2 separate regions of the Homo sapiens genome follow, and region 2 is linked to region 1. A link means that fine-mapping ties the variant in region 1 to the expression of a gene that starts in the linked region. Tissue or cell type: whole blood. Region 1 holds a variant in brackets; the other region holds the start of a gene. All regions are shown on one strand. Distances are from middle to middle.

Region 1 (4,214 bases):
ATGTTAAATATATTCTTCCACATAACTGTTAGCATTTTTTGGTGGGATATTTTATTGAATAACAATCCTTAATTGAATATCATTGAATATCAAATCCAATACTTTTTTTCCTGATGGTTTCTCTTTTTGGGGTTAATCATTAATCTTTTAACAATGAAAATATTTAATATTTGTTAATAGTAGTATGCAATATGTAAACTCCCTAATCTCTTAATTTATTGTCAAGATTTCTTATAAGAGGAAATAAGAATAGATTTTATATAAGAAACTCTGCCTCCACGCATGTTCTCTTAATATACGGAGGTGTACAAACCGCTATTCAAGTTAATACACAAATAAGTCATCAAGAATGTGCTATGTCCTACAACAGAAAGTTGTGGGGAGCCTCACAGCTTACAGTGAGGGCGCCTGGAGGAAACCCCGGCTGTCTCACATCTGCAAGTGAGGGAGAGCTGTGCTCTGACTGAAGAGAAGTGTCACATAAAAAGATGAAGACTTTTATTGTAGGAGGGACGTCAAATGAACACTTGAAAAAATGAATGTAAATCTTAAGTTTCATTAGAATACAGCATGTTTCCTTGCACTTACATATGGCCTTCAAAAGACAAAACCTAAAACAAGAATCAGGAAAAGGAATCAAAATTGGACACTAAACAGGACTGTCAACACCTAAGTCATAACCAATAGGTGGTGTCGAATTAGGATACGCTTGAGAAATGGGGTTTGAAAGAGAGTTGTCTGTGAGAGATGCTAAACAATAAACAGCACCAGGCTTATAAAACACCTTCCCAAATCACACAGAACAAAGCATCTTCTATGAATGGTGCAGGCTGGATGTCACAGCCTCCTCTTCCCCCAAGGCCTGTAAAATGAAGTCAGTTTTAAACTCGGAATTGAACATTGTCACACAATTTAGGTATCAGCTATCACTGACGGTGGGAGACTTCAAAATAATTTTGCACGTTCACAGACTTTATAGCTAATCCTGTGAGCAACTCGGCGTGTGGCCTACATACCTGTGAAGAATTGTCACAGTGATTTCCAGATCCAGAATGTAATTTGCCCAAAACCAGGCTTCCAACCTTGACACATTTATTCCACCCGTTAAACACCTGTGTGCGCATAAAGACATCTCGGGAGCTGTCGTCCCTCCATCAAATCACAGGCTCGGGTGTGACGGTGTGAGCTTCCTGGACTTTCAAGCAGATTGAGTAGCTCAGTCGGGGGGAGAAGCTTAGAGACGAGTGAGATTAAAATGTGAAGCTATTTGTTTTTCTGAAAATTTGATGTTACCCTTTGCAGCACAGTCTTCAAAGTTTCTTCTGCCTCCATGGCATAATTTGGAAAATCTCTGAAACGTCAAATGGTCCTAATGTAATTGACCTTACATACACAATCTAAGAAAAAATGTAATCTATCAAAAAGATACAGCCTGTCCATTAACAAAATCGCCATGTCGTGTCATCCTTCAAATACATGCAGAAGCCAGAACAGTCACATTTTCTCTTTGGTTTTAGACAACAGACCCTGCTGGAGTCATAATACAGGACAAGTTGATACAAAATCTATTTAATTAAAGTTGCCCTTTTCCTTGAGATGAATTTCCTGGGAGTTATGAGGTCAAGCATGGTTCCCTTTCCAGCTAAATAGCTGCCCAACAGCTGTTGCTATTTGGAACATGTTTACTCCTAAAACCGCTCTGTAGTTCTGTGGTTCACATGGTGTCTTAGTCTTGCTGACACTGTGGTGCTGTGTGGCTCTAACGTCAAATTCCATTGTGACTGAGGAATGAACTACAGGCCTTGTGCTTTCCTGACAGTCCCCTCCGAGGGGACAGAGTGCCACAGAGTCACCTAGAAACAGCCTGGACGGGCACAGATAGCAAGACGTGCACCTGCGCAGCCCGGGACTCTCCTAGCGGGGCAGGGCAGAGCCAGCAGGGAGTCAGCACTCAGCCTGCAGAGGCGCTGGGCACCGGACGCTGATGCAATAAAAGCACTTCACATTTTCT[A/G]TGGAAACTGGCTTTGGCAATTTCCATTTGTTTTCTTTTTCTGCTGTTCTGCCGCCTCCCAGGCCCTTTCCTTGTGAGGATGTGCAGAAAGGACGTCTCTGGCTCTCTGGCGAGCTCTGCACCCCAATGCTCCCCCCACCTTCCCTGTCACAGATCCCCCTCTGTGCAGACAGAGATGCAGAACACAGAACAGAGAGTGCCCATTGTCTTCCCCTGTGTGTAGAAGGGATGGGGACCAGGGATTGAGGACAACAGCCCATTCTCTGCACCGTCCAGACCTTGGAACCCGCTCCCTGTCTCCCCCGTGGCACTCAGGGAACACATCGGAGAAACTCTTGGTGGCCTCTGCTGTTTAAAGAGGTCATCGCAGTGAAGAAAAGAACATGAAGTTGTTAATTCCTTATGCTTTTTGTTAACTATTCCAGGATTTCCTTTGAAGTTCCTTTCTGTGTTCTTTTGAAAAGGTCAAGCTATGGGGCTGAGTGATTTGTAGCTGGAGTTGTGGACTCGTTCTGTGACCCTGGACCCTTAGGCATGGCTGGGCCTTCTGCCTCACTCTGTCTATCTGACTCCTCTGTCTAGTTAAATGGCTAATCATTCTCGTGGCACAATGCAAACGCTCCCCCGTTTGTCGTTTGGGTTGAACACATCAGATATTTGGATTCTGGGTACGGCTGGATAATATCAAAGCGTTTCTGGAGGTAATTCTTTCAGTCAGCACTGAGCTCTGGGTGTACAGCGGGGCAGAGATGAATCAGCACCCAGCTCCAGCTGTGCAGCCGGGCAGAGATGAATCAGCACCCAGCTCCAGCTGTGCAGCCGGGCAGAGATGAATCAGCACCCAGCTCCAGCTGTGCAGCCGGGCAGAGATGAATGAGATGCAGTCGTGGCTCATCCCACTGTCGGGGCGGCCGGGAACTGAAAACGACCCCATCCAGTGAGGCCCGGCAGGCATGGGCTGCTGGCGAGGGTGGCACCAGAGTTTGGGATGGAGCCGAGTTGAGGGGACCTAGGGAAGGCATCCTGGAGGAGGAGGCCAAGCCGAGAGAGCCTGGGATGCCAGGGGCTGTGAGCAGGGACCAGCCTGGCAGGGGTGAGGAGCATGGCTGAGGCTGGGGACCTGGAGTGGGCATCTCTGGAGATGCCAGGTGGGCTGAGAGGGAGGAAGGACAGTGAGGCCCAGTGAGACTCACCTAGCGTGTGCTGCACTGTGTGTGAAGCCACCAGACTTGGAAGGACCATCGCCAGCTGGGCCAGAGCACTAGGGACCTACTCAATGCCATGAATGTGTCAGGGTGGGTAGAACCAGGGCTACCTCTAGGCAACAATGCACCACGTCCTAGTACCCACAGCCAGGGGATCAGGGCCTGGGTAGCACTCGCCCAATTGACATGCGTGAGCTCTGTGCTCCTTCACCCGACATGCGCGGGCTCCGTGCTCCTGCACCTGGTGTCCATGGGCTCTGTACTCCTGCTGAGGCAGTGCTGGGCGTCGGCACTGATCATGGCCAAGGTTGGAGGAGGCATCTCGTGGGAGGCCTGCAGGTCCCAGGAGGGTGGAATCAAGGCAGCCAGCCTGAGCCCAGGGTGGAGGCTCTGCCTTCCCAACGGGGGCAGGACCCAGAAGAAGAGTGAGGCCACAGAGGCAGATCCTGGCCAGGCCCCTGGAAGACAGCAATGTGCTGAGAACCTTCCTTGAGAAAGAGTGGAGGCCCCGGTGACCACAGCATCATGACTGCTGAGGGACAGGACCAGAGAGTCTTCTTCCTAATTGCTCCCCTCTCCCTTTCTCCATTTCCCCATAAACCCTTGAAACAGAGGAGCCTGTGCGTGTGCTTGCCCTTGGGGCAGCCAAGAAGTGGCAGCAGAGAGGCCTGCCTTCCACAAGGCACAGCAGCAGGGACCACGAGTGACCTGGGAACACTGGCCCCAGCCTCCCTGCCTCCCTCTGTCTGCCCCGGCCTCCGCACCCAACAGTTGTGAGATGTCGGTGTTTCTGTTGCTAGGCATTCCTGTTGCTGCGCAGCAGCCGGGGCTGGGACAAAGGACTCGCTCTTCTAATGTTTAAAGCGCAAAGCGAACCACGTGTGGGCCCAGCCGGCCCTCAGGAGGAGCTCCGCGGCTCCTCCCATCTGACAACTCCCCCGACCTGCTGGGCACTGAAGCCTCTGCTGCGGGGGTTGCCGGTGCCACTTCCCCTCTCC
Region 2 (4,214 bases), 47 kb before region 1:
GAGGGTAAGGCTGGTGTCTAAGGTCCCATCAGTTGAACTCCAAAGCAGGCTGTCTAGAAATTGGGTTCAGAGACCTCCCAGCCTGGAACCCAGTTTGATGGAGTCCCGCATTCAGGGGCCAGTAAACCACTGTACCCTGGACAACTCCATAAGCTTCGGTTATATTTTTAGGGCGGTTTTGCATGTTGAAATATTTGCATGCTTCGAGTCTACCATGCATGATCAGGCTGTCCCTGACCAGGGGAAAATTTACATAGTAAAATAGTATTACCCTTGAAATAGATTTAAGATAGGTCCTCCTTTTTCTTGACAGTATTACAACCCAGTTCAATTTCAGGAACTCTAGAGGTCCCTGCAGTTATGAAGAACTAATTAAAGGCATGAAATGTTCCTCTGCAAGTTTCATTGACCATATTGGGCCTACAGTCCATTTCCAAATAAATATCTAAGGTAAGAAAAATATGGGACTCCCCACAGACTACTTATCTACCAGATGGTGTGGGGTTTGGATGGATGTTTTCAGTTACTTCAGCAATTTTTTCATTAATTCAGTATTTATTGAGAACCTAATGTATGCCAAGCTTGTAAAATGCAGTGGGGGGTATGACCTATTCCCAGGTCTCTGGACTCTGGCAGAATGGTAGAGAAGATGCTGTCGGGCTTGCATGTTCAGAACACCGTGTCTTAGGTGACCTCCCGGGCCTTTGGAGGCCCAACCCCAGGGTGGCGGGATAGCCAGGTGAGGCTTTGTTTGGCCTGTTCACGTTTCTCTGGAAAAGAATGGGGGTAGTTAGGCCAGGCGCGGTGGCTCATGCCTGTAATCCCAGCACTTTGGGAGGCCAAGACAGGTGGATCACTTGAGGTCAGGAGATCGAGACCAGCCTGGCCAATGTACAGTGAAACCCTGTCTCTACTAAAAATACAAAATTTAGCTGGGTGTGGTGGTGCATGCCTGTAGTCACAGCTACTTGGGAGGCTGAGGCAGGAGAATTGCTTGAACCCAGGACGCAGAGATCGCAGTGAGCCGAGATTGCACCACTGCATTCCAGCCTGGGCGACAGAGTGAGACTCCATCTCTAAAAAAAAACAAAAGAGAAAAAGAAGTATTATTCTGCAGCCGAAAGGAAGTAGAGATGCACTAAGAAGATCACAGTAGAGTTTGGAACATTTTTGGAGTAAACTGAACAAAATAAAAACGGAGCAGCATGGGAATTATTTTAGCTTCCACCAAAAGGGTCTGTTTCTGCTATAGTTAACGGAAGTTTTCAATTTTCAAAAAATCCCAGTAGCTCGCTGAGTTTCAGCCTCCTGTAATTCAAGTACTGACAGCAGGTACTACTCTTCTTGGCAACAGAGTGAAAAAGGTTTTAAAGATGTTCCCGGGGCGTTAGCTTTGGTGCTGGAGTTGTAACGGCTCATTATGTGTATACAGCATGGAACTGGCAAAGACTGTCACAAGCAAAAAGAACACAAAAAGAGAAAGTAAAGGCTCTGGCTCTCGGTACTTATGGAAATCTCATCGTCATTAATTTGCACAAAGCCATTAAAAATAGCATTTACCAGCAGGGGTCCAGCGTTAATTAGAACCCAGCCTGGGAGCAGCTGGAACTCTCGGCGCTCCTGGCTCAGTCCTCGCCGCCCTGAACCCGTCTGCACCGCAGGGCCCGAGTGGGAGGCAGAGGCCACATTTCTGGATATGAGCAAAAGCTCCGACATTTCGTCCACTCTCGTGTTGTGAACTTTAAAAAATTCTGGAATCTGTTGAGAATTTGGCAATAAGTTTTTAACCACTAAATATGTCAACAACGCATCGCCTCTACTTTTACCAAAAAATAGGCGCACGAAACTCCGCTGTTTGCGCCCGCGGACACCTGTCCCCGCCTCCTCGCAGGAAGCGGCCCCCGCGCGTGGGCGCGGGCTCGGGCTCGGGCTCGAGTGGCGACGTGGGCCGCGGTCCTGGAGGGGGAGAAGCGCCCGGCGGGCAGGCGCGGGGCAGGGAAGCCCCGGGGAACCCACAGCCCCTCCGCAGACCCAGCCAGGGGGCGCGCGCCCGAAAACGCCCCGTGTGCACGCGCCCGCCCCCCTCCCCGCGCCCCGCGCGCGCCCCTCGCAGCCTGGAGCCGGAGCGCTGGCTCCGCGCGGCCTGGAGAGGCGGAGAGGCCTGTCCACCGCCCCCTCTGCCGCCCACGCCCCGCTGCGGGTCGGAGGAGCAGCTCCCGCTCGCAGGTGCTCGGAGAGGCCGGGCCGCGGCTCCCACAGGTGCCGGGAAGCGGCCGCGCGCATGCGCCGGAGCCCACCCGCCTGGCTGCGCGTCCCGGGCCCGGCGGCTGAAGAGGAGCCGCGGCGAGGTAGGGCGGACCCCGGGGAGGCAGCGGCGGGGCCTGGCGGGCGGAGCGGGAAGCAGCCCGAGGCGCGGGTCGGAGGGGGCGGCGGGTGGGAGGTGGTCGGCGAGAGCGGCAGTAGGCGGGAGGGGAGAAAAGGGGAGGCCGGCAGGGGAGAGGCGGGGAGGGGAGGCCGGCAGGGGAGGGAGGGGAGCGGAGCGGAGGGGAGGGGAGGGGGGACCGGGAGAGGAGGGGGCAGCGCTGCCCGCGGCGGGGTGGGCGGCGGTGGGTGGTCTCCGCTCCGCCTCCGGGAGGCCGCGTGGGGGGCGTGGGGGCCTCCTCGCGGGGTCTCCACAGGCCCTCCCCCGGGACGCGGCAACCCCGGCCGGAAGACAATGAGCCGCCCGCGCCGCGCCCGCAGTCACCGCCCCCGCCGAGGGTCCCGCCGCCCCAGCCGGCACGGAAGCAGGAGCAGAAGCCGAAGCCAAGCGCGCGGGGCCAGGGCGGGGGCTCCTCCCGGGGTTGCTCCGCTTGGCTCTCGGCGGTCGCGGGGATCGGCTGTCCGGAGCGAACGGGGGTCTCTCCTGGACTCGGGGCCCTGGGGAGGGGAGCGCGGCCCTTGGTCCTCCGCCGCTGCGCCCGGGGTGCGGGGGTGTCCTGGCTGCTGACCCCCGCGAGCCCCGAGCACCGCGACCCACCCGCCCCACCGCGCCGCGGCTCCCGAGTCCTGCCGGGCGCCCCTTGCAGCCCCCGCCCCATGTGCTGGGGAGACCCCCGGGCGGTCTGGGCGGGATTCCGCAGGGGTCCCTCCTCTCAGGCGGGGCTCATTCTGGAGCATGAAAAGAGGGTGAACCAAAGTCCCTCCACCTCTTTAGAGTCCTACAAAACCACGTTTCCCCCTCCACCCACTCCAGTGTCTATTCTAAGGAAAAGAAAAGGAACAAATCAGTGCAGCGAGCTTTATTCTACTCAGCCCACGAAAGGCGCCGCCGTCAGATTTTAAAGTTCCAGCCATCCCCTCAGGCCCTGAGTGAGAAGTTCGCCCGATTCCCCGCGGTTCCCGCCTCCATTTCCCACTAAGGAGCAGTTACTCAGGCTCCAATTAGGACCCCTTAATGGATGTCAATGGAACCCTTCAGCCTTTTATCCTGAGCTAATAGTGTGCTATTATTAGAATAATCCTCCCCATTCCTGACATCACGGAAGGGAGCGTTCCATTGCCTTCAGATTTGCTCCAGCAACAACCTCGTGTGTGCAGATTTATGGTAACTGGCATTGCAATGCTCCCATCAGGGCATAACTAAGTAAAAATTGTAATGAGGTAAAGCCTTTGAACTTTCCATGTCAGTTGCACAGGCATTGCTGGCCATAGCATTGGACAGCACATAATAAAATCAGTTAAAAGATGTTGCTTACATTATAGTGATGTGTAGCACAGCCACGTTCGGATCAATTACAGACCGCCAAGTTGACGGTGGTCCTGTAAGATTATAAAACTGTTTTCCCTGTGTCTTTTTCATGCTTAGAAATGTGTAGATACACAAACACCATTGTGTTACAATTGCCTGCGGTATTGTGCACGCTGCACAGGTGTGCAGTCTGGAGCAGGAGTCTGTGCAGTGGAGCACAGGTGTGTAGCAGGCTGCACCGCCTAGGTGTGTAGGTGCCCTGTGTGATGTTTGCACAGTGATGAAGTTATCTAACTATCATTTCTCAGAACCTGTCTGCATCTGAACCATTCGTGACTGTATTTAAGCCAGCATTGGGCTTGGGAGGAGGGGAGAAAGCTTAAATGTTGTGGCTCTGAGACTAAAGAAATTCCCAGGGAGCAGGACTCTGTGTTGACTGATGTCTGGGCCTAACTTGAACCTCAGAGCACCTTGCTCTGGGTGG

Evidence for each region. PIP is the estimated chance that this variant, and not a neighbour inherited with it, causes the effect.
Region 2: it holds the start of KBTBD11, and the variant in region 1 is fine-mapped to the expression of KBTBD11 in whole blood (TOPMed, PIP above 0.99).

The regions. Positions count from the first base shown.
Region 1 is chr8:2,018,965-2,023,178 of GRCh38, forward strand. No RefSeq gene overlaps it. Among named protein-coding and RNA genes, the nearest start is that of MYOM2, 24 kb to the right of the region's middle. RefSeq lists an enhancer at 2,468-3,457. The variant A/G (reference allele first, on the strand shown) is at 2,012.
Region 2 is chr8:1,971,588-1,975,801 of GRCh38, forward strand. It overlaps KBTBD11 (kelch repeat and BTB domain containing 11), which reads left to right and starts at 2,090. Exons shown (of 2, transcript NM_014867.3): 1 at 2,090-2,348. KBTBD11-AS1 (KBTBD11 antisense RNA 1) reads right to left here and starts at 1,758. Exons shown (of 3, transcript NR_136275.1): 1 at 1,561-1,758; 2 at 953-1,076; 3 at 1-770. It overlaps KBTBD11-OT1 (KBTBD11 overlapping transcript 1), which reads left to right. Exons shown (of 3, transcript NR_126346.1): 2 at 338-450.